Linked DNA regions of Homo sapiens: region 2 is linked to region 1. The links come from fine-mapping of genetic effects on gene expression. A gene starts in region 1. The other region holds a variant in brackets. All regions are shown on one strand. Distances are between the middles of the regions. Region 1 holds the start of RASGRF2 (Ras protein specific guanine nucleotide releasing factor 2). Region 2 holds the start of LOC124901017 (a long non-coding RNA gene).

Region 1 (12,746 bases):
CTTAAAAGAAAGCAAATTCATATTAATATGAGTGGCCTCCTATTCCTATGAATCACTGACATTATCTCGTCATGACTTCTTTTGTGATCAGTTATAATGTTATCTACTGAGCCTTAGACCAAGTTATCACCTCCCTATTTCCACATTGCTAAATGCAGGAAACCTCCTAGCTTTTCAACAGTCCCTCTATTTGAAAGAACTGACCCCACTGTTTACATTAGTCACACAAATGGCATGGGCTTATAAATACAGTCCAGGAAATGAATCAGGCATGTCTAAATTAAATCAGACAATGACAAAATGAAACACTTCAGTACCCTGAAAATAATAAAAAGTACCACTCATATCCCTGCTGTTTCCATCACCACAGGTCTTCACAATGTCATACTGGTAAGTATCATAAGAGCTAAAAACAGATATTGTGACCTGAATTTTTTTTTAATTAAGCACTAAAGGATCAATAAATTTTATTTTATTTTTATTTATTTCTTTACCAAGAGATGTTATGTGTTTATTTATTTATTTTGCCCAGGCTGGAGTGTAATGGCGTGATCTCGACTAACTGCAACCTCCACCTCCCAGGTTCAAGTGATTCTCCTGCCTCAGCCTCCTGAGTAGCTGGGATTACAGGCATGCTCCACCACGCCTGGCTAATTTTGTATTTTTAGTACAGACAGGGTTTCGCCATGTTGGTCAGGCTGGTCTCTAACTCCTGACCTCAGGTGATCCACCTGCCTCGACCTCCCAAAGTGCTGGGATTATAGGCGTGAGCCACTACACCCGGCCAACAAATTTTATTTTTAAGGATTGCTTTTTTTACATCATTTTATCTTTATCTTCTCAGATCTTATGAGAATTAAAATTCTGATTAACTTATTTAATCTAAAGCTGTAAATTATTCTTATATAGGCCTCCCCAACTTTCTGTCTCATTTCTTGCTTTACAGTTTTTTAACAAAGAAAAGAAACACTGTAGTATATTAGTTAAATAAACACAGACCAACTCAAACTTGTTATTTTTTTCCTGCTTTCTCCCTAAAAGTATATTTGAAGCATTTTGTAGTCACTGTAATAAGTTTTAGGAAAAATGATTTGAATCCTTATTTTTCATTAAATCATTAGTTTTTCAAGTGCCAGTAAAAAAATAAAACTGTGAGTCCATGTGCTTTTTGCATCTCTGTTCCACCTACTGATGCCAATATTTTCTGCAACAACAACAACAACAACAAACCTGCTACTGTTTTTTTCTAAATATATACACAATTACATTTTTAACTCCTTGGGCAAAAATGCTAACATATTCCCTTTGGCGGAACCAAATTCATGTATTTATAACTTCTCAATCAGCTAAAATTTAAAAGTTGCACCAATAAAAATGTAATGGATAATTTTAGAATAATGGTTAGATTTTAGAATAAAGGCCAAATGTTATAAAATAATCAAACATTTATCACAGTGCTATGTTGATATTTAACAAATATCATTTCTAGTTTCATTTAAATATCAATAAAATTTTACTATTTACAGTCTTTGTTTAAGGTAAACTAATTTCAGAGAGGAATTTATATTGTGAGTAATTTAACAGAATCATTCCATATCCTTAGTCCTGAAAAATAAAGCTCCCCAAATTATAGATAGATGGGATTTATAACTCAGGTCTTGAAATGTTAATGTACAAATCAAAATCTGCAAACTCCAATATATAACCGCCTAACAAAGGTTTAATATTCAACGGTAGAAAATAGTAGAAGGGTAACAAACTGAATAAACACCACACACACACATACACACACACACACACACACACACAAACATATATCCCTTTCTTGTAGAACAAATAAATAGGTATAAAAATAGAAAGCCACTTTAAACCTGTGAAAAGTAGAATTTAAGACTTGAGCAAATCCATATGGTTGGTCAATCTGACTTATTTCATTACAAAATAATCATAAAGACTAAGTAATTTCATTCCAAAAAATTAAAATTATACTGACTGTGGCATGCATATTTAAGTAGTATTGAAAACTGCAGAAAAAAATCCATTTAAAAATATAATCTGCATTAAACAGACAGCAATATCAGCAATTGTTTTAATGAACCACTGACATTTGCTTGCTAAAACCAGAAACATTTGGTTATCACACATGCTTTAGGTCTTGTCATCATCCAGTGGGAGAAAAATTTCTCTATTTTTTAATTGTCAAAAGAAGGGAAAAATTGTTATAACACTACAAGTATTTTCTACCCCTCGACAATGCGCTTAGTTGTCACTTAATGAAACCCACAGAAAAATAGTTGTTCACAACAATAATGCATTTTTATGTATTAATACATCTGTCACATCAGGGATGGACTTTTCTGTGTTGAATTCTTACACAACAATCTAAATAGTAAGGCTTAGTGTAGCCAAAATTAAAATAACTCAATTTTGCTAATCCATGAGATTTTTTTTTCATTTAACTTTAAAGAGAAGGATAATTACAAAGTTTAAGTAATAAATTATTTTGTTCCCTAAATTATATTTTTTAACATTGTATAAGATTTAGCAAATATCATTATTCCATTTTCCCTTTGTGTTCAGTAAACAAAAGTTGAGTTGGTTATAATTAGACAACGTGAAGTAGTATGAAAATCCACCATCCACACTCTCCATCTCCCACAAATATTTCAGAGTTCGCACGCAGCTCTGCCTAATTCATTCGATGATTAAAATCCTCTGCTTGTGGTCAATTTAGGAAGGCTAAAATGACTAGTAATGAAGTGACAGGAAATCACATAGCCTTTAATCCCTTTAAAATTAAACCAACATGTTTAATTCAGCACAAATGCAAATGTCTACTTCTTTAAACCTCCAGAGCGAAAGAGATATTTTACCCCCCAAAACAAGTGAAATCAGGCTGAAGAGAACATTTACCACCACCAGAAAAATAAGAATCAAGGTGGCTTTTTTGCTATGTGTCTTCTCCTGCTAGTAGGCAAGACAGATACTGCCACTGAAACAGAGCAGACTAACTGGGATGTGTACTTTCACCCTAAATGCAAATATTTTTAAAGGTACCCCATTCCTGAAGTAAATGAATTCCTGAAGTAATGTCATGTAAAACTGCTTGTTTAAAAATAAATCCCGTTTTTCTTTGAACATGTAATGGTCTGCAATCGTATTTCTCAAGAATTACAACTGCCATTTAAATAGTTTTGAAAAGGAAATAAGAATAAACAAAACAGTGATTCACATCCTATACCCCAAGCCCCCATCCATCTAGATTTGCTCAGTGGATTTAAAAACAGTCTTAGTAAGGAACTCTTCAACATAATTTAGTCTTTATATCTTCAACTGGACTTTGATCATCTCCCCAGAAGTCTTTGAGTTTCAGTGTTAGCAATAGGTAATAATAACGATGATGTTAATACTCATCATCTCCAAAAGCTGAAGTTCAAATTAGATGAGGTAAGAGAGGATAACAGCCACCAAGAGCACAGAGCCTACCATGTAGAAGGTACTTGCTAAATACAACTTCCCTTTCTCCTTCACCTGGAACAAAACGGGAGGTTTTCATTTTCCACAAATGGAGCTTAACTAGAAAGAAGTGCCATCGGACACCTTTTTAAGAAAAGGAACAACACTTTTGGAGAAAATAAACCACTTAAAATTGTTTTTAACTGATCTCATTTTGATTATATCACCATTGCTATCCCAAAGAAGTAGTCACTATGGAAGGCTGATAAGAGAGCCTTGCAATCCTCCAAAGACTCATCAAAGTGAAATCTGAGAACACTATGAAAAAAATAGAGCAATGCAAATATTCCTACAATCTAAGCATATTTGGAAAGTGACTTTCTTTTTTCTGCTTAACTGGAAACAATTTAAGTCCAAGTGTAAAAAAAAAAAAAAAACGGATTTTTTTGTTGTTGTCAACCAACTTATTTTGAATTGTTATTTACAGGAAGCAAACCAATGGGTGTTTTCTTCTTGTAACTTACCTAAAAACACAACTAATAAGCATAAAAATCATTGAAGGATATGTGGACTTTAAGCTCCCAAGAATGCTTAGAGGCAGTTTATAGCAATAATTACATCAACTATTGTAACTGTCAAGGGGATTACAATAAATATGTCGCCCTCCAATGTGAGTAATAAGAATGTCTCTGCCTCAGGCAATGATGTTACTATAGGTTTGCACATCTGCTGACCTAACTAATTTATCAGAATGTCCACTTCAATCACCTGCTTGTCCTCGGCTTTTCAGATGCAGTATTTATTACAAACACTGGTAATCTCTGAATCTTGTGAAATGGTCTTTCACATTCTCCACACTGCAAAAAGCTCACCCTGTCTGTCATAACCTTAGAAATAGAAGATGCCATTATTGAAAGGTAATTGGAAACCAACTTAGCCAAATTCTTAATTTTTACATATTAGGAAACAGAGATTTCATTAACAGAAAAAAAGAGAAAAGATTAAGAGATGTGCTTAAAGAAATAACACGGAAACTTGGTGAAGAAAAATGACTCTGCCTCACTAAGTCCTGTTTCAAGCCCTAACCTTCAACTGTGTTGATAGTGTTGAGGGAGATATTGATATGGAAAGCTCCAGAAGCATATAAGGAGAAAGAAGCAAACCTTGGGATGTGCTCATCTCCTCACATCCTCCACAGATCCTTCGTGTCTCAGTGTCTGGATGATCTAAGCACCTCAGCAACATAAATTAGCTGAGAGGTAACCAACTGGATAAACTGTAGATTTAAGGTAGAATGTTTCTCCTTGTTTCTTATTTTCACAGTTTCTTCTTAATTATTCAAACACACCCAGTTGGCAGTGCCAGAGAAAAGCATCAGTGGGCTAAGCTAACCCAACTCACAGCAGCACATCTAATGCAAGACAAAATGTGGAAGGTTTCCCAGCCCAACTCCTAATCCATTCTGGAATGCTTGCTTCTCTACATCTCAGATTTATCTACAAACACCAAAGATTCTAATTTCTAACCTCTTGAAGATGAATAAAATGACTGAGAAATACTCATCATTTGCATGGTCATAAAAAGGGAAAACAATTTTTTCATTAGATGGCCTATTTAGGACAACCATTAGAAAGTGGCATGAAAGTCAAACTATTTGGAAGTTATGTTTCCTTATTAAAGTGCAAGAAAGAAAACAGTCTTGAAGATTACAGTCCAGATATTTTCCAAGTAGAAAAATGTTGGTTTCCATATAACATTAGCAAGTCAGAGAGCCATATGAATTGTAACAGGTAACAACTCCCCACCCCTAACTGAAAAAAAAAAAATCAAAAGTGGTTATCTTATATTAATATAAATATGAAGAAAACAAATAATTTGAGATTAAGTAAATGATATATATCCTGAGTAATTTAAAATACCCTATTCTACTTTAGACATAATAACATTTAGAAACCTATTCATTTTGGTTCCTGCGGGGCCTTGGAACACATACCTTAAAAAAAATCCCACCAATAGAATGTTACTTATATATATTCCTGAAAAAAAATGTTTCCTCAAAACTCTTCTCCCAATTTAAATTCTAAAATGCATGACTTGAAATTTATGTTTATATTTCTAGTATCTATATCTATAAAGTTGGAAATCAGTTTTTCAAATGACTCTGAACAAGCCCTCAGAAACTAAAGAGCATATTTAAACTTTCAGATTTATAAGTGTTATAACAAGTTTAATCACTTAAGTCTGTTAATGATTTATAGTGAAAACAACTCAAACTTCCGGTCGGTCTAGTTTTAACTCCTCTTAATTTTACACATTGTTTTATGAGCCCCAAAGGGTTAGGTAGGCATCTTACGGATCACTCCATTGCTAGCACCTCCCACAGCCTCTGTGGTGTGCGGTAGATGCTGTCTGATCTGAACTCACATGGAAAATTCAGCTGCGAATATTTTTACGCAACAGCAAAAACAATCAGCCTTTTTCATATCAAGGTGGGGATTGAGAAGCTAAATGAGAACATTAGGGGCATAAAATTAGTCTGCTTTAACTTTAATAACCAAACGGTGATTGGAAACATACAAACTTTGTGTTTGCAGGAATGAGGGGCTGGGATCACTAAGACTTAAAGGGTTTTTCTCCCCCACCCCGCGACCATGAGCACACAGCAAAACTAATAAAATTATGACCCAGAATTAAAAGGTCGCATTCATTTTCAAAGCATTCATTTAAAAGTACAGAAGCGTTCTTTAAAAATGCCCACATTTTTAAACATAGCAAGAATGTGGCTACCAAATATTAATCCTGAGGAATATGAATACACATTTACCTTCATAATTACACCCAGCAGGTCAAATGTTAGCAAGGCCAACTGACCGAAATCACAAAGACTGATTGAAAATGACCAACAGAAAGTGTCTGTCCGGCTTGGGAGCCCCGCTTGTTCCCAGCCCAACCAGTGGTCAAACATCTGCAGGCAAAGAAATCTACACGCGCCAGCCGGGTATGGCAGAAATCAAACTTTTCCAAATAAGTTAGTTCCGTCTTGCCAATCTACACCCAACAGGTGTCAATACATGTCACCAGACAAAAATCTGGCGAGCCAGGTCTAGAGAAGCAATAGATGGTTGGCAGAGAAGCTGAAACGACTCGACCTCTACCAGGGTAATGAAAGCAAGTCGGGCCACTATTCTGACTGATCACTTGGCAGTGGGGTGGAGGGGTATGGAGATGGGAGAATCCCTGGATGAAGATCGGAAGGAGCGTGGAGATGTCCCGCCACTGGTGACGCGGGGGGATTTCGGAGCATAGTCCCCGCACTCTTTCACGACCCCCGACCCCTGATCCCCGGATTAGGACGGCAAGGGAGTGCGGCGATCAAGGCTGGGAGACCGCGGAGAGAAGGCGCGCGGTACCTGCTTGTCCAGCGCGTCTCGGACGCCTCCCTGCCCGGCGCCGGCCCTGGGTGGCGCGGGCGTTCGTTCGCAGCTGCAGCCCTCCAGGAGGTACATGCCCGCCGGGCGGCAGCTCTGCTCGCCCTCGAAGTAGAAGAGCACATTCTGGTAGAGGGCGAACCACTTCTCGTGCCAGCGGCTCGCCTCGGCCGTCTTCTTACTCAGGAAGCCGCGCTTGGTGCCCTCCTTGCGCGCCAGAAAGGCCAGGTACAGGGCGTGCCCCTCGTTGTAGCGCACGCTCTTCTGCATGGTGCGGGTGCGGAGGGCTCACGGGTGGCCGCCGGTCTCACCCCTGCCTCGCGGCCATGGCCCAGCTGGCTCCCTCGAGGGCGCGACCGCTCAGGTCCCGGCCGGCGAAGGGCGCCCCCTTTCCCCACGCCGCGCGCAGGGCACCCCGCCCGCTTTCGGGAGGCCGCGGCGCGCGGTGGCAGGGGCGCGGGCTGGGGCCGAGGCACGCTCTCCGCCCTAACCACCACCCTCCCGGCCGAGCCCCCGGAGCCCCCCAAGCCCCCAACGCCCGCGTGGAGCGCGGCCCCGCGAGGGCGCCCGAGCCGGCCGCCGCTTCGCCCAAAGTTGCGGGAGCCGAGCCCCCGCGGCGGGCTGGGGCGGCAGCCGGGGAAGGACTGTCCTCGGGCAACGCGCTCCGGGAGACAGAAGGTAAAACGTCACGTGGGAGCTCAGCTGTAATCGGCTTGGAGACCGATTTAAAGGGCAAAGTCGGCGCGGCGCCGGCGGTGGCGCAGCCCGCTTGCCCCGGCTCGCGTCCCTCCCTCGCCCGCCCCGGCCCGGGCCGCTGCCTCTGCTCGGGCGCCCGCCGGGATGGGGCGGATCAGGGAGGTGGAGGCGCCCGGCCGCACCACACACCCGCTCACACGCGCTCGCACACTCGCGCACAACGCGCGCACACACACACGCACACCCACACACACGCAGACCAGTACATTCACCCAGATCCACAATGCACACACTCAGACGCACAAAAATACACTCACAAATGCACACAAACACAATGCGCGCACATATGCACAAAAACACACGCGCACACACTCATGACACACAAATACACATTCTCACAACGCTCACACTCAACACACAGTCACAACGCACAAATGCATATAGACAAATACACCCACAATGTGCGTTCCCGCGCACAAAAATAAAACCCACATTCAGATACACACTTAAGGAGCTACACACATGCACGCAGTGATATGCTCACTTACACACACATTCACACACAACCCACACATTCACTCAAACCCACATTCAAACATACATTCATACACACATTACACTCATACAGTCACACAAACAGCACACATATACTCACACGTTCACAATCATACAGACTCATAAGCAGATAATCAAACACACACACAGATGAACACACATGTACATTCACAAATTCATCCAAAAATACACACAAAGCACTCACACACGTATTCGCACGAATCCACACACTTTCACAAACCCACTCACACATACACACACACTCACATGCCACATCCATAAGTACGTTCCCATGGCAGTAGGTAGAGTCACAGAGTGGCTTTGCATAGCCCGCATCCTTGGCTTTTCTGCTTGTACCTGCATTGTAGTATTTAAAACTGCCGGTAAAGGTTAAGGAGAGTGGCCCAAGTGTTCCCGGAAAGGCATCAGATGCCGAAGTTCTTTCGGAATGCCTGTTATTTCACAGTGGTAAGATGCTAAATTTTAAGTGCCGAGTTTTCAACCTGGAAAAAAATACCCAAATAAGGGACACTTTGCTGCCCAGGGCAGAATCCAACCCCAAAGGCCAGCTGTCACAGGCTCATCGTTTGTAGGACTGGATTCATTTGATTAACAAATCTGACAGGTACAACCAGAAAACCAAGAGCCACCCCCCCGCCCCAACCCCATGCTGTAAAAATGTAAGTGGAAAAGAAATAATGTAGCCAGCAGCTGTGAGAGAAAGCCAGTGAAACCCCCGGGGAGGGCCTATATTTGATTCTGCTATACACATTTTTTATTTTCCCCAGTCATTTATCACTAAAACGGAGTGCCATCATAAAATGTTTATTGTTAAAAGTAAATAATAATGCTTTTCTGGGTGATGAGTCTACGACAATACACCTGTCTTGTACTGCCAGTTGTGTGTTCATGAATTGGTAGCCCCAGGGGTTCTGCCTGTTTCATAAGTGCTGTTTCTGCAGAATATTTTAACTCTGCCTCACTGAGCAGCTGAGTGGGGTTTTTTTTTCCTTTTACCTTTTTAAAAAATTTTCACTTTTAACAAGTATATAGTAGGGAAATTGCCATTTTGAAATTACAGCGTGAGAACAGTGGTCATTTCTCTTTACGTTTTTAAAAATATCTAAAGGACAGTGCTGTGCTAAATTGGGTTTAACCCAGCTGGAAGTTTGCATTGTTCTTCAGAGAAGACACAAGTACAGAGACAGTAAGTAAATGCAGGCAACATTTTGGAGCCAGATTCTAGATGCAGAGGAGCTGGTGATTGCCTCAGGAGGCCTTTTATTTCTTTCTCTGTGGTCCAATCCCAGCTGTGAGAACCGTAAGTGAGTAGACACCTGTGTGGTTGATAAGCTCCATTTTTTTAGTAGAAACCAGTAAGAGTGTGAAATCAGCACAAAAACTATTTTGCCATGAGTAGTCAAACCTTCTAACGCACTTGAGTTTTTTCAGATGTGAAAGATTCTCTTCTTCAATAAGCAATGTCTCAGTTACCATCTCTGTCTCCTTAAATGTGCTTTTCATTTGAACCACATGAAATATTCACAACCTCTTGTCTGACATCACTTCCTACCACGGAAGGTTATGTGGCCCTTATATGCCACCCCATCTGCTCTGCCCCTGGACAATGAGAGAAAGGAGTGCTTGTTTCCTGCAAAATTTGGCTGGTGATTACCGTGGGTTTTGATTATGGAAATTCACTGCAAGAACCATTTATTGATCACTAGTTTATGTCCTCAACACTATATTTAGGTGATGTAGAGCATATAGAGAAAAAGCATTGCCTGTGTTCCTGGTGTGCTCAGTGTAAGAGGAAGAGAATTTCTTTCTTTCTTCTTTTCTTTCCCTTCCTCCCTCCCTCTCTCTCTCTCTCTCTCTCTCTCTCTCTCTCTCTGTCTCTTTCTCTCTCTCTTTCTTTCTTTTTTTCTTTAGAGAGAGGTTCTTCCTCTGTTGCCCAGGCTGAAGTCATAGCTCACTGCAGCCTCAAACTCCTGGGCTCCAGCAATCCTCCTGCCTCAGCCTCCAGCGTAGCTAAGACTATGGGTGTGCACTACCACACCTGGTTAGGTTTTGTTTACTTTTTGTAGAGACAGAGGTCTCACCATGTTACCCAGGCTGGTCTCAAACTCCTGGTCTCAAGTAACCCTCCTGCCTTGGCCTCCCAAAGTCCTGGGATTGTAAGTACGACACCACCCAGCCAGGAAGAAGATTAATGTTTAGGTGCTTCTTCTCACCTGTCTGTTTCTCAAGTGCCGAGCTATCTCTGTAATCCCTGTAGCACCCAGTAGGAGAGTTTATATGCAGTAGGCATACAAGTTTTTCAGACAATTATTTTCTAAATTAATTTCTTATTTGGTCATTGAATTGTTAAAGAGGGCATAAGCATTTGCAAATATTAGATCATTCTGCAAGATTGTAAGAGATGAAAACAACCAGACATTCCTGGACAGCCTAGAGAAGCTATCTCTATTAGGTGTCTGATGGGCACCTGGGGGCCTTTAGTCTCCATTCATATGGAAACCACATCCCTGGAATGGTGCCATCCTGAAACACAAAGGATCAGGAGTTTATGTAAATAAGAATGCTTTCCCCCAGCTGATCAAATAGATTGCCAAAAAGAGACTGCGTTCCAAGTGGATGGGAACAAGCTTCTCTGAATTCATTGTTTTTCCTTCTTGCATTGCGTGGATTCTTTCTTGAGCGGGCCAGTTTAAAAAAATTTTTTATGGGCAACAAAGCATATGATCACAGTGCAAGTGGCCTCTTTCCCCTTTTCTAGATAAGTTAAGAGGGGAAAAATAGCAATGAGCTGTCATACCTGGAAACTCTACTAAATAGAGAGGGAGACATTATTCAGATAATTTGATGAGAAAAGGAAGGAAGGGAGGGAAGGAGGGAAAGAGGAAAGAAAGGACGGAAGGAGGGAGGAAGGAAAGGTGGGAGGGGAAATTTTATCTGAATTGTCTAAAGCTTTGAAGTTTAGGGGAGTGGGGAGTGCACAACCTAACCTACAGCTTTTCAAAATCCCTAACTCATGCCTTAGTATTCAGATGCACAAGGTAGGTTTTAATTTTTTTTTTCTTTCTCCTAAACTCTGTTTTGTTAGTAAAATGTACATGGGCTGCATGAGTTTCTGCAAGGACTTTTCCCTGTGGTTTCTATAATTCAGAAATGCATCCGCACTGGGTTCTTGGAGGAAGATTATGTCAAGCAAAGCTGTCAGAGGCATTTGAACCAAAGCAACTCCATCTTAAATAGGAGCCGGGTAAAATGAGGCTGAAACCTACTGGGCTGCATTCCCAGACGGTTAAGGCATTCTAAGTCACGGGATGAGATAGGAGGTCAGCACAAAATACAGGTCACAAAGACCTTGCTGGTAAAACAGCTTGCAGTAAAGGAGCCACCAAAACCAAAATGGCAACGAGAGTGACTTTGGTCGTCCTCACTGCTACGCTCCCACCAGCACCATGACAGTTTACAAATGCCATGGCAATGTCAGGAAGTTACCCAGTGTGGTCTAAAAAGGGGAGGCATAAATAATCCACCCCTTGTTTAGCGTGTCATCAAAAAATAACCATAAAAATGGGCAACTAGCAGCCCTCGGGACTGCTCCGTCTATGGAGTAGCCATTCTTTTATTCCTTTATTTTCTTAAACTTGCTTTCACTTTGCACTTCGGACTCGCCCTGAATTCTTTCTTGTGAGAGATCCAAGAATCCTTTCTTGGGGTCTGGATTGGGACCGCTTTCCTGTAACAAAGCCACAGTATTGCCAAGATCCTTTTCTTAGCCTGACAGAAGATCACTTGGGGAATTGTCATTTTGATGGCTTGTAGATGTGGAGAATAATATATTTAATAATGCAGACTCACCAAGAATCCCAGACTGTTTCTACAGGATAGAGTGCTACCAGTTCTGGCACATATGTGATTCTGTATCATCTCTTGATACTTAATTAGTAAAGCCAGGTTCTTCCCCAAGTAGGTAAAACCCAAAAGGATTATTCCTTCCTTGTTTCCAGTATTATTTTGACCAAAAAGAATTCCTTATTTACGAAATACTAGAATGAACTACTTAGAGCTAATAAAACCATTTATCTGGTGTCCTTATGATATTTCAACTAACTTAATGTTCGAGATACCTAAAGCTTGTCCTTCAAACACCGAAGATAAATGAGCTCTACATCTCTACAGTCTAAACAGTGAAGAAAAGTTAGCATCTTCTTGATTTAAGGTCACTATTCTAAATACAATGTGTCTAGGAGCTAGACCACAGCTATTGCTAGCCTCTACTCTTTTATGCAAATTAGAAAAAGGCACACCCTCTGGGAGGATGAATTAGAGAGAGCCTTGAGGTGCACACAGCCTTGAGAACATGATCCTGATGAGTGGATGACATGACACCTTCATGTGACTAAAAGGTGCCCCTCCCCCTGGATGGCTACAGCTCTGTGCAGGGAGCCCTGTGCAGTGACCAACCTGTGCAACTGAACACAACAGCTTGTGCTGTGTGCCTCTCCATGGGTGGCCACGAACAGCTGTGCCTTTAGAGTTTCTATAGCTGTTCCACAAACCCAACCGCATCCTTCACCCTTTCTCCATCCTAACCTTCTA
Region 2 (12,746 bases), 250 kb before region 1:
TAGAAAGCTGGTGAAATCTGGATAAGACTGGTGGATTGCACCAATGTTCATTTCCTAGTTGTGATACTGTCTGTAGTAGTGCAAGATGCTGCTGTTGGGGGAAACTGGGTGTAAGGTGCAGGGAATCCCCGCGTTATTTCTTACAACTGCATGTGAAGCTATAATCATCTCAAAACAAAAGTTTGTTTTTTTGTTTTTTTGTTTTTAACCAGTATTTTTAAAAACTGTGGCTTTTATTTACCAGGTCCATTGTTGACAGAAAAGAGGACTTTTGAGTTCTAAGGGGCCAAATTTGGGATTCTCAGAGCACTGCATTTTTACTCTGAGAAAGGTAAGATAAAAGATAGGACTTAGGCTTGGTTTCCTGCCACATGGAGAAATTAAATTGTTCTCCTATGCTAAAGGGAAAAGCTTGGAGGGCAAAATGAAGATGGAAAAGAAATAATGAGTGTCTCTGAGAGGGGCTTAAATCCTCAGAGTAGGGTGATAAAATGAGACAGTTTTTAGGCCATGTCAGCAGAACATACCTAGATCTTCCGGTCTGGGACCCTGGAGGTGGCACTCTGTAGATTCCCCTCACCAACTCTGGGTGTTCACAGCAAGGCAGGGGAGGGTTAGGCAGAGAGGGCCTGATGTAGACCCTTCTATTCTCTGGCACCAATGGGACGTGAGAGCCTGGAAACTTCCCCTGAGGCCCTTTGAGGCCCTTTCCCCCTCGCCCCTGAGACGAGGTCAGCCAGGCTCCCTGGGTGCAATCACCATGCATTGTTCCCAGGCAGGGCAAGCAGGCCAGGTGACACCAGGTACAGGCAATTCACAGCAGCCTGTACCCAATGAATCATCAGCAAAGAATGACCACAGGAGGCCAGAGGAGCAGACAGGTGCCCAAAAGCCCAGAGATGCCCTCCAAGGCACCCAACACCCAGGGAGAAGGCCAGGAGAAAGGGCAGGGGAAGAATCATGATTTAGTTTGAATCTTGAAATTATCTGAGTGAAAATGACAGGCATAGGCAAGCTGAGATTAATGAAAGAAAATGAAAATTGTATTTCTGCACATCTAAATTATTATGCCAAAACTTTACATCTACTACAGGAATGAGCAAGAGAAAGGTGAAAAATGAGGCCTTTTGTCCCTGGCTTTTGGCCCCACAGAGTTTGCACCCTCACTCTGGGAGAGAAAGAATGGACCCACTGGACATAAGTGTGCTTGCTCAAAATCAATGTACCCTCCGAAATAATTCAGGAAACAACTCTTGACTGACAACCACATTGTTTGTGGCTGTCCCCCAAAATGCTTTAATGAATGTTTTAGAAATGCACATGAATGAAATCAATTAAGTGGTAAGAGCCCTGTAATTACCCATGTTGGCACCTTTCTTTGGCAACTGAGCGGCTCATTTCAGTTAATGATTTCCTAATTAGTAATATTTAACTTGGCTCCCATCTCCCAGCCTCTCCTCCTCTTAGCAGCAGGCTGTGTCACACGCTGAGGCTCACCTGCTTAGAGACCTTGGCCCAGGTTTTCTTCAGCCTGTAGATGGCACTTCTGTTTAAGGCCGAGGTGATCTCCAGCACGCCGTTGTAGTTGTGCAGGCATCGGCAGATGTCCGCCACTGCCACCCATTTCTCGATGGCGTTGGCACGGGAGCTGACATCAGCATAGTTCATTATCTGGGAGGCCACCAGGTTACTCATCTGAGACAATCAAAAAGCCCCGAAAGGCAGTCTAAGAGCCCCAAGCAGTGCATTTAGGCAAAATATGTAAATTATCTGCAGACCTGTCAGGAAGGCAGGGTGTTGAGTAGCTTGAAGATCATATTCTACATTTAGATACCAACTTTCTAAAGAGACTAAAGTCTATAAGAATAAACTAATGAGCATCTGTTTGTCCTTTGAGTGAACACAGGGGTTATCTGGATTCCCGCTTGTTGAGGGAAGAGATGATTTTGTTCCTCAGCAATTTTGATGGTGTCATTTCTAATAATTACTGAGGAAATGGGACAGAATAACCTAACGCCTGCGGAAAGGCAATGTCTGTAGATCATGGATGTCACTCCCTGGGGCCTTTCCCTTTACTCCTTGGCCCCCAACAGTGTGTGATTACTCACTCTGAGAAGCCACAGTTATCACAGAGAAAGAAAAAAACACTTGCCCCCAGTTAGATCAAATTCTGAGCTGATTAACTCTCAAACCAGAATCACTTGGCTGCAAGGAAAAGAACATTTTCTTCATCTTATTCTTCACCAGCAGTTAAAAGGACCTATAGTTTTGAGGCTAAGTACCGTAATTTTATTACTTAAAGCCAGTTTAAGAAGCTCAGCTCTTGTAATATGGAGAGGAAAAAAAAAGTGAAATGAGATTACCGTATTAACAAAGGGAATATAGGGCGTGTAATCTTATATCCATACACCAAGTCTGATGGATTCACCCATTCTTTGATGATTCTGAAGACACTTAAGATCTCATAGTGCCTCAACACCATCACTGTGGAAATTCGCTAAAGCACCTACTGCAGTGCTGTTCACTGAGTGCCTGCGCATCCTTAGCGTGAGGAGAGGAATTATTTGGAATCCAGTTTGTCCTGGGAAGAAGTGGTTTTGTTAATCAGTAATTTCGATGAAGAAGTTCTTGCCAATAACTATTGAGGAAATGGGATAGAATAGATTCTTTTAGGTGCTGGGAACAGAAAGACAAATAAATCCATCCCTGACCTTAAGGCAATCTGAGCCTAGGTAGGTGGGAAGGGGAGGGTCGCAGATACATAAACAGGTAAATGCCATGCAGCGAAACACAAAGTTGAGTCTATTCACGGTGGGGTTTGGGAATACACAGGCAGCATGGGGCATCTGGTCTAGTACAGAGGAGGCTTCTAGGAAGAGGTCACGCCTGCACTGAGTCTTTTTTTTTTTTTTTTCTGGAGACAGGATCTTGCTCTATTGCCCCAGGTGGAATACAGTGGCATGATTACAGCTCACCGGAGCCTCGATGTCCAGGGCTCAAGCGATCCTCTCACCTCAGCCTCCCAAGTAGCTGGGACCACAGGTGTGCACTACCATGCCTGGCTAATTTTTTGTATTTATAAAGACAGGGTCTCACTATGTTGCCCAGGCTGGTCTTGAACTCCTGGGCTAAAGCAATCCTCCCAGCTCGGCCTCCCAAAGTGCTGGGATTACAGGTGTGAGCTACAGTCTCCAGCCTTGCATTGAGTCTTAAAGGATCTAAGTATGAGAGCAAGGGGACAGAGGTGGGAGGGATGGTGTAATGGAGGACCTGGCAGCCATCTGAGGGGCACAAGGACTGGGAGAGGCAAGGGTGACAGATGGGCTGTGCTCTTGTATGACAGGTTGGGACCATATCCCTAAGGTAAGGGGAAGCCACTGACAGATTTTTGTCAAAGGGAGGTAGATAATTAGATTGACCTTTCAGAGAAGTCATTCCTGTGCCACTGCATGCAGGATGGTTTAAGGTACATGGCTGTGCTTTGGTCTAGGATAGGCCAAGGTGGACATCCGGGCCAGAGGGACTCAGTGAGTTTAGAGCACAGGTGTATAACTCCACTTGTGATCACAGCCATGTAGCCATAACACGGAAGGCCATCACTTGGCTCTAAGCCACTATTGTCTGTAAAAGGTATAATTGCCCTGTTGACACTGTACAGGAGCTCATGCCCAGAGAAAGAGTTAAGCTGCTGACCCTGAAGGCAAGTGAGAGCTGGCCACACAGCTGTGCGCGGGAGCGACTGGCTCAAGCAGCTGAGACAGAAGAGACAGCGTAAGAGAGCTGCTGATGAAAGAGCTGCTAATGAGACAGCTGCTGATGAGAGCGCCCGCTGAACAAAATCATCTTTCACCTACCTACGGCCCCCTACGTGTTCTTTCAGGCATCCACCCACTCCCCTCAGACCTCAGCATGGGCTGGAACCTGACTCTGAACCTAACAGATGGATTGGAGGGCAGTGAGGTTGCAGGGGAGAGATGAGTCAGGAGCTCCTGGAGAGACAAGGTAAAAGGCCACATCAAGGTGGTGGCAGCGGGGAAGGCAGGGTGGGGAAGAGCCTGAGATATATGTAGATTTAGAGTTTGCAAATATGTTGGGCAGTGGTAAGGGTGAGCTGGTAAGGGAGAAGATGACGTCTAGATCCTGTGCTTGGGTGAGTGAGTGTATGGTGAGGCCACTACCCAAGACTGAGAACAGAGAGGACAATGAAGAAGCAGGCTTGGCGGCTCTGGGGTGCAGATGAAAGGTTCCATCTGTAATTGTCAAGAATGCAATGTAGCAGTCGTCCCAGCAGAGGAGACATGTGGGTCTGGAGCCTGGGATCGAACCTCTCTTTGAGTGTCCATTATATCCCCTGTGTTGGTTCACCACAGGTAACAGAGGTTTGCTTCCCACAGCAGGGAATCTGTTTCTCAGGGCAGGCACTAGATGGGCCATGCCCTTGTCCTTTAGGCAGCAGCGGCACTGAAGCTCATTGTGTGGTAGCATTCACACAGCATCCACGTGCTTTGGGGAAAGCCTGCATGAAACACTGTCTTGGGAATCTAAACTGTCATTTTTGCATTTTGATTCTAGATCACTTATTAATTTACCTATGGGGTTCCTGGTAGTTTGTTGTTGTTGTTTTTAAAATCGTTATTCCTTTTACTATAGTTTAGTGAAACTGGAAGGGGAGGCTTCCCGTTGCCTGGATAGGCCAGAAGACACTCCCACACCTGTTACTTGTTCTACCACAGGACTAAGACTATGAGAACAGCACTAAGGAAGAGCGGGGAGGTATAAAAGCATCTCCCAATCTTACCGCTGGGGAAAAGCAGAGCTGTAAGATGGACTGACAGCTGGCCACTGCTGCACAGAACTATAGCAACAATGTGATTATGCTCCAAGAGGCCCCTTCCAACCCTGGAATGTAATTCAGGCTGAACGTTCAGTAATGATGAGGACTTGCACCAACCCAGCCTTACCGTGACCAACACCACCAGGGGCCAGTGACACATGTACTGCTCACTCTGTTAGTCAATATATGAACAGGAAGTAGTGATAATCATGATAAAAATAGGATCAGCAACCTGTACATTATTGAGCACTGGGTACCATCAAAGGTGAACCTTTTATGTCAGGAAGTTAATTGGACATTATTACATTACTGTGAGCTCTTAGAGATTTAAGCTTGTCGTCAATATCCCATCAATTCTGTTTAAAAGTGGGTGGCAGGCCAGGTGCGGTGGCTCACGCCTGTAATCCCAACACTTTGGGAGGCTGAGGCAGGCAGATTGCCTGAGGTCAGGAGTTCGAGACCAGTCTGGCCGACATGGTGAAACCCCTTTACTAAAAATACAAAAATATTAGCCAGGCATGATGGCATGCACCTGTAATCCCAGCTACTCGGGAGGCTGAGGCAGGGGAATTGCTTGAACCAGGGAGGTGGAGGTTGCAGTGAGCTGAGATCACGCCATTGCACTCCAGCCTGGGCGACAGAGCGAGACTCTGTCTCAAAAAAAAAAAAAAAAAAAAAAAAAAAAAAAAAAAGTGGGTGACAGAGTTGCTTTGTTTTAGAGGAGTCTTTAGACCCCAATATCCATCTTCTTGTGACACGCCCACGGTTTTACTGTTACGGTTACTCACGTCATTGAAGTGTTGGCTGGTTTTCATAATGTAAGGAGTTCTTTCGTTTTTATCCAGCTTCATCCACCCCTGCCCAAGAAACTCCCTGGAAGTTCAAAACAAAACACAAAACCAATTAAGTTTTTAAAAATATGGTGGCTATGATCCTGGACAGTTGTCACGAATATTAGAAAAATTCCATTTGACATGGCCTAGAATGGTTCCTGACACCTGCTGCTGCCAGCCTCACAAGTGAATTTTACCTCGGCTGTTGCAGTTTACCTCTCAATGCCAAAAAGGAAGATTCTTCAGCTTCCAGCTTTCTCTTATAAATGTTTGGAACTGTGTCCCTATTAGGATCCTATAAAGCCTTCTCTGAAGTTGGAAAACAAGAACCAACACAAGGGAAATAAAGAGGTTAAGTACTACCTTAGAAATCAAGACTATTTTCCCAGGATTAGCTTTTAAAAACATTAAGCCTTAGCAGAGGGTCCAAAAATTTCATCACTACCAAAAATGTTAGTCAGAAGCAGAATTTTCTCCCTCCACTCTGCGCTGCCTGCCATTCTCCTGGAGGATGCAGATTTCAAAGGCAGGGATTGCGTTTTGTTCTCCCCAGCGCTCAGGAGGGCGCAGGTGGTCAGGGCTGAAAAGCGCTCCTTTTAGGCTTGTACCGCATGTTGCCCTGA[C/T]CAGGCAGTTCAGCGGGGCAGAAGCTCCACCTGGTCAGATGGGCTGTCTTCAGGGCAGCATTCCTGATCATTCACTTCATTCCTGAGCAGGTCACCAGACACAGCAAGAAACAAGGGACAAGTGAGATGCAGCATACAGGAATTATTTTGTATAGTCATTAAAAACACTCGAAATTACTCTGATACTCAGGTTGACTAAGTCCCTGGGCAGGGTTCTTTGTCCCTTGCTGTTGTTGGTCCTGCTCCCATCCTGCAGAGTGCTGGACACAGAGGCGTGCCAGTTCCATGGATGGAAACAACTGGTAGATACTCACACAGGAACTGAGGGGACAGACATACACACAACCTGCCTTAGGAATAATGTCAACTTCTAAGACAGCTAGAGCAGCCGAGCCCTGCTGCTGTGGGGGGTGGCACTCACTCGTAGGGAATGCTTCTGAAAATGACATGGTCCAGGAGGGTGATCTGTTCTGCCAGCTCCATGGCCGACAAGGACTCAAAGCATTCGGCCTTCATGCAGTCAGTCTGCAAGAGATGAGGGAGGGAAATGAAACACCCAGGAGAGGGCGCCTGCCATCTCATTGCAGGTCAGTGAGGCAGACAGCTGCATGTGTGGAAGCATGAAGTTCACCACTAAATTCTAACTATGAAAAAAATGGCAGAAAGCTAAAAGTATCAAAGCCAACATGAATATCTTAGACCAACTGCTAGACCCCACACCAAATGTGGTTCATCTCACAGAGCTTCACAGATAGGACAGAGGGCCTAATACTACAACACTCCTTGATCGGTTACAAGCATATTGCTCGCCTTGGAGAGGTAGTTTGCACATAGTTGTGCTAGATAAAAATGTGGTCAGACTTACCATTTGAATTATATCCTCTAATTTTAGGTGGATGTCATCTTGGTCATCTTGTGAAAGGGCCCTGAAAAAGATATCAAATTATCCTCCATGAAAGAAAAAATAGACAACCTAGGAACAAAACTACAAATGCAGTTTGGTTTTCCCTGGATGGGAGGTCTGAGGATTTGGGTCTACAAGGCCATGCAGCACAACCAACTGCTGAGCTGGAGATGAGCAATCCCCAAACAGAAAACATGCTCAAGGCATGAGAGAATCATCAGGACAGCTGATTTAGAACAAAAAGGCAACCTGTTACATACAAGGTTGTAAATGAAACAACCACCGTCACAGTGAGTCTGAGGGTGAGCTGGGTGAGCTCTGAGTTACCATCCATAATGTAAAATGGAGCATCCTCTAATGCTATCAGCCAGTTGGACTCCTAGGCCTGAGTGCCCTCCTCCCCACACCTCTATCCCCTACCGTGGGCTTTCCCTGCCCTCACAGAGGCAGGAGACGCAGGGCCACCCCTTTCTCAAGCTTACGTAGACCAGAAGCACAGGGGGTTCCTATGTGGCAAGACTCTGAACAATGCCAGGCAGGAGCCAGCAGATAGCTTCTTCCCCCTTGCATTCCAGATGGACTTTCCTCAGACACTTTTGGCCCTGAATCTCATACATGTTATTCAGCTCTCAATAAATATCTTTTAAAAAAATAAATGATGAATGAATGAATGAGTGAATGAATAAACACAAGTTAATACCTTAAATACTGGTTTCAGAGTAGAGGGTATTTTTGTGCAACAGACGTTCAGAGTCCAGGAAAACTGGAGTCCAGTAGGCATCCAATTACATAATTTGCCATTGGAGCCAGGCATTTTATGTTTTCCAAAAGGAAGGCACAAGCACATACTCAAAGCATTAAAATAGTAGGAGGGCAGATCATGAGGTCAGGAGATCGAGACCATCCTGGCTAACACGGTGAAACCCTGCCTCTACTAAAAATACAAAAAATTAGCTGGGCAGGTGGCGGGCACTTGTAGTCCCAGCTACTCGGGAGGCTGAGGCAGGAGAATGGCGTGAACCAAGGAGGCAGAGCTTGCAGTGAGCCGAGATAGCGCCACTGCACTCCAGCCTGGGCGACAGAGCAAGACTCAAGTCTCAAAAATAAATAAATAAAATAAAACAAAATAAAATAGTTAAACGGTCCCAAACCATGTACTCTGCTGGAGGAAGCTACTTTTAGTAAAAGGCGAAAGATTTATGCGATATGAAGAGAAACTAGAGTAAGAGGAAGCTACTTTTAAAAGAAGTAATGATGATGTGATGTTCTGTTGTGTTCTGAGTTGATTAAAACAACAGCCACAACCCTCAAAAACATAATATCAACAGAGATGGCTTCCTGTATGCCCGCTCTATGCCAGGCATGTGCTAAACATTTGACATGCACTATCTCCTGTATCCTAACAGATCCCTTCCAAGGGATTGTTATACAGGACAGCAGATAATGCAGGCATTGTGATCTCCGTTTTACAGATAAGGAAACAAAAGCTCAAAGACACTGACTAAGTTGCTCAGGGTTGTGGGCCCTTCCTTTACTCTGCGCTTCTCTTAAGCAGGCTCAGGGAAGGCACCTCTTCAAGGGTCCCACACACAGCACACAGTCAATAAACACAACTCCCTTCCCTCGGCTGTCTGAAGGGGGAGCAGGAGCCTTCTAGATTATACTAGTAGCAGCCCTCTTATCGGCACTTAGCCATATTATTTGTGAGTAGAAAGAAATAGTCATTTTATCTTAAAGGGCAGATTAAGATGAGGAAAAAATAAGTTAAAGCTAACTCTTTCTCCAAAGCCTATTAAATTACATGTAAGGGTTACACATGGGAGATAAAAGTGACTTTTCCGAAAGTGCACATCATCTTTTCCACCATTCTAGGTTCCTGGAGAGAGATCTGTGGCTCCATAATTATGTGTACCAGTGGGAAAGATCTTTTTATGAAGCTGGGTAATATCTTTCCCTTGGAAAGAAAAAGTCAAAAAGTTAGTTAGCTCCCATCAAATGTTCCTCTTCTCAATGATCTTACCCTCATTTTCCAAGAGGCACTCTGGTGCCATTAAGTTACCTAACATTTTATGCCTTCCTGTTGATGCTATGTGGGGTTTGAGGATGACTTTTCTATGACCTGAGCCCATCACAGTTGAACATCCAAGAAGTTAATCACTATTTCTTTTTATTTTGTGGCATGTTGGGTATCTAGAAAAACTCTACACTGAATAGATTTTGAAGACAGCTAGTTAGACAACTTTGGAGGAGGAGAGATGGTATTTTAGAAATATAAGTTTTGAGTACAGGTTTTTATTTACAAACAGGGCAACAAACTATATATGGCAATTAAGTGTATTCATCATACACTTAATTGTGACCCCTGTGAGACTGTGAGTCAGGGAGGCTTCATTCAAAAGAGCATTTGCTTTATTGCATTAATGTAACCTATGCATGAAAACATGTTTTATGTTCATATCTCTTAGATGTCAGGAATGCATATAAATCTCTAAATGTCAGGGCTGCACTTAACCACCATATGATATGTTTTTTATCTCTCACAGTCATAGCCTGTGTTTTCTAGAGGGCATGGTTCAGAATTCTTTCCCTTCAGATGTGGAGGCCTCTGCACTTCTGGTTCAGTTCCAATAGAGAAAAGATTTGCTTCTAGTCTTCTGGCGATGCTTGGGCATTGATGAACATTCCAGGATCCTGGGTTCCCCACCACCATCACTACCACGTCTATCAGCAGTATCACCAGTTTAATAATTGTGCATTTATAATGACACACCAAATAAAAGGAAATGGGATTATCCAAGCTGTATGAATAGAAAATTCCTCTTTCAATTAGGGTAGTCCAAAAACAGAGCCACAAGCAACCAGTGTCTGTCCTGGGATTGGTCCACACTGTCTTTGTGTGGAAAAGGTGACGAAGCCTAAAGAAAGTTGAGTTGACTAAGATCCAGCCTGGTTTCACTTGGGCCATATGGCCTTAACGGCAGAAACTACTTTTTCCAGGAACTACTGTCAGTGCTTCTAACAGTAATAATACTCACTTTACTACGAGTGCTAATGACTTTTCAGGCATTGTGTTAACCTCCTTACACATTTCACATCATGTACTCTTCACAACAACCTAATGAAGTAGCTATTATGAGTCCCACTTTATAAATGAGGAAACAGGTTTGGACCGGTTGAGAACTTGACATCCATAAATGGCCGAGCCAAGATTTAGCCTTGTGACATCCTGCAAAAGGTAGAATCAGACTCTGCTCAGTGTTGTAGTTTCAAGCTCTACTGCCTACTAAAATTTCTGTTCCCTATCAATCTTACACTGCTAACTCTCAGGTCATTATTCAGCAGAAAGAATTGGCACATCTGAAGCCTGATGAATAATCAAGACCTGGGATGGCAAACAGGATTCATCTTAAGAACCAACTCCAACTGACTGACGTCTGAGGTCACCTCTTGGTGCAGAGAGAAAGCTCTCAGAATTGATGGGTAAAGTCTGGCATGGGCGTCTTGAGGGGATTGGCAACAAAAGGCCCTCATACTGGTTGATCCTGACAGTTTTTCCCAGCCTGAACACCCTCACTTCCCTGATAGCTATTTAGTCAAATATCCCTAGGGGCACAAACTTCCTGAATCTAGTTTTTAAATATTAGTGTTTTAAATGCAAAGAGCATAACAAACTAGTTATGAAGAGAAAAGAAACAGTAATCACTCAGAGTCCCTCATGCACTGAAATCAGGCTTCACCTCAATATGTACTTACAATTTTAAAATCTGAAAACAGACACAGTAGTGGAATCCCTGGGCTTACTTAGATGTTTTCATAGAATGGAAAAAGTGAAGAAGGCCCCTAACTGTTTCCTAGGGCTGCCTTAATAAAATCCCACAAACTGGGTGGCTTAAAACAACAGAAATGTATTGTCTCACCTTCCAGACAGAGGTCTGTAATCGAACAGTCAGCAGGGCTATGCTGCCTCTGAATCCTGGAGGGGAACCCTCCCTTGCCTTTTTAGCTGCTGGTGGTTTGCCAGCGATCTTTGGCTTTCTTTGGCTTGCAGCTGCATAACTCAGTCTCTGCCTCCATCTTCAGATGGCATTGTCTGTGTCTGTCTTCCATGGTTGACTTCTTATAAGGACACCAATCAAAGTGGATTGGGGTCCACCCTACTCCAATACCTCCACCCTACTCCAGTACCTCATCTTAACTGATTACACTGGCAATGGCCTTATTTCCAAATGAGGTCCATTTTGAGGTATGGGAGGCTAGGACTTCAATATATCTTTTAGGGGGTAGGGAGATACAATTCTACCTGTAAGAGACCCTACACCAAAGAACGGTCTGGCTATGGGATCTTCAGCTAATGGGGGCTAAGAAAGACTTACAGGCCAGTTGCTAACACATCACAAACCAACATCTGGTGTTGCTGCATCAGGGAAGGACTTGCAAAAACATGGACTGAGCTAAAATAGACTGCCTGTGGATGACACAAACATTCTGGATAACATGTAACAAGGAGACAATGCAGCCAAGCTTCGAGGAAAGGAAGGGTCATTTCTAGAGGTTGTAAATGAAGAGGGAACTAGAAATGAGAGTGGTAAAGAAGTACCAGACCCTGGCAGAGAGATGCTGGGCTTCCCATCCCCAAGCACGGACAGAGGACGTACTTATGAGTGAGCTGGGAAGCTGCAACTGAAATGTCTGCACAAAGCTAGCAATGGCTGCCCTTTCCACATAGAGTGGACAAAAAAAAAATCCACCCACCAGTTCAAGAAGCTATAAGAAAGCTTGTTACCCACTTGGATACTGGGTGCAACAACTATGGACACAATCTCTAGCAGTACACCCAAAGTTGAAGCCTTTATCACATAGAAGTGTGGAGTCATACCTTATACAATCCCCCATAGTCATACCACCTACGTGATGTGGAAATCCTAAACTGACAAGCTGTAGAAAAGCTGGTCGAGGACCAGTGAAATGAGCCAAAGAAAATTCCTAACTACTCTGTGATGTCACATCCACATTTTAGGTGCACGAGACTCCCACAGACACAACCACACTCACAAACATGAGCTTACAATAAACAATTACAACCCACAGGAGGAAACATCATCTCTCTTTGATGCCTGCCGGACTTGCAGGAGAGGCTCCTCAAGGGTTCCTTTCTTTAACTGTTGGTTCTATAGTAAACCGCTGTCTGCCTCCATAAATAACAGCAACTGCACTCCACACGAGTTATACCACCCCGTCCCGAGTCTTCCTGAGACAGCAGACCCCAAATTGCCCCCAGGAAAGAGAAGATAATACATAACACTTTACTGCTGAGAACATAGTCCCCACTGTCCCCAGGATTCTAAGATTTATTGGCTCTTATTTTCTATGAACATAGCAGGAATCAACCAATGTCATCCAGTCGGCATCTTCAGCTGCCTTCACCTGAGGATATTCGCGGCGGCTTTCCTTTCTTGGGGAAGAAGGTCTGGGTCTCGCAAAACTTCTTCTAGCAAATTTAGGACATTCATCTTTAGTTCATTGTTGAGTTCGAAATCCTGTAAAATAAAATG

The links. PIP is the estimated chance that this variant, and not a neighbour inherited with it, causes the effect.
Region 2: its variant is fine-mapped to the expression of RASGRF2 in whole blood (TOPMed, PIP above 0.99).

The regions. Positions count from the first base shown.
Region 1 is chr5:80,955,147-80,967,892 of GRCh38, reverse strand. It overlaps RASGRF2 (Ras protein specific guanine nucleotide releasing factor 2), which reads right to left and starts at 7,530. Exons shown (of 27, transcript NM_006909.3): 1 at 6,867-7,530. The coding sequence starts at 7,154. It overlaps RASGRF2-AS1 (RASGRF2 antisense RNA 1), which reads left to right and starts at 6,986. Exons shown (of 4, transcript NR_105015.1): 1 at 6,986-7,112. RefSeq lists enhancers at 6,706-7,427, 10,518-11,038.
Region 2 is chr5:81,201,315-81,214,060 of GRCh38, reverse strand. It overlaps RASGRF2 (Ras protein specific guanine nucleotide releasing factor 2), which reads right to left. Exons shown (of 27, transcript NM_006909.3): 19 at 12,619-12,731; 20 at 7,156-7,216; 21 at 6,712-6,815; 22 at 5,623-5,707; 23 at 1,498-1,695. It overlaps LOC124901017 (a long non-coding RNA gene), which reads left to right and starts at 3,123. Exons shown (of 2, transcript XR_007058842.1): 1 at 3,123-4,002; 2 at 4,651-7,850. RefSeq lists an enhancer at 1,464-1,523. The variant C/T (reference allele first, on the strand shown) is at 6,291.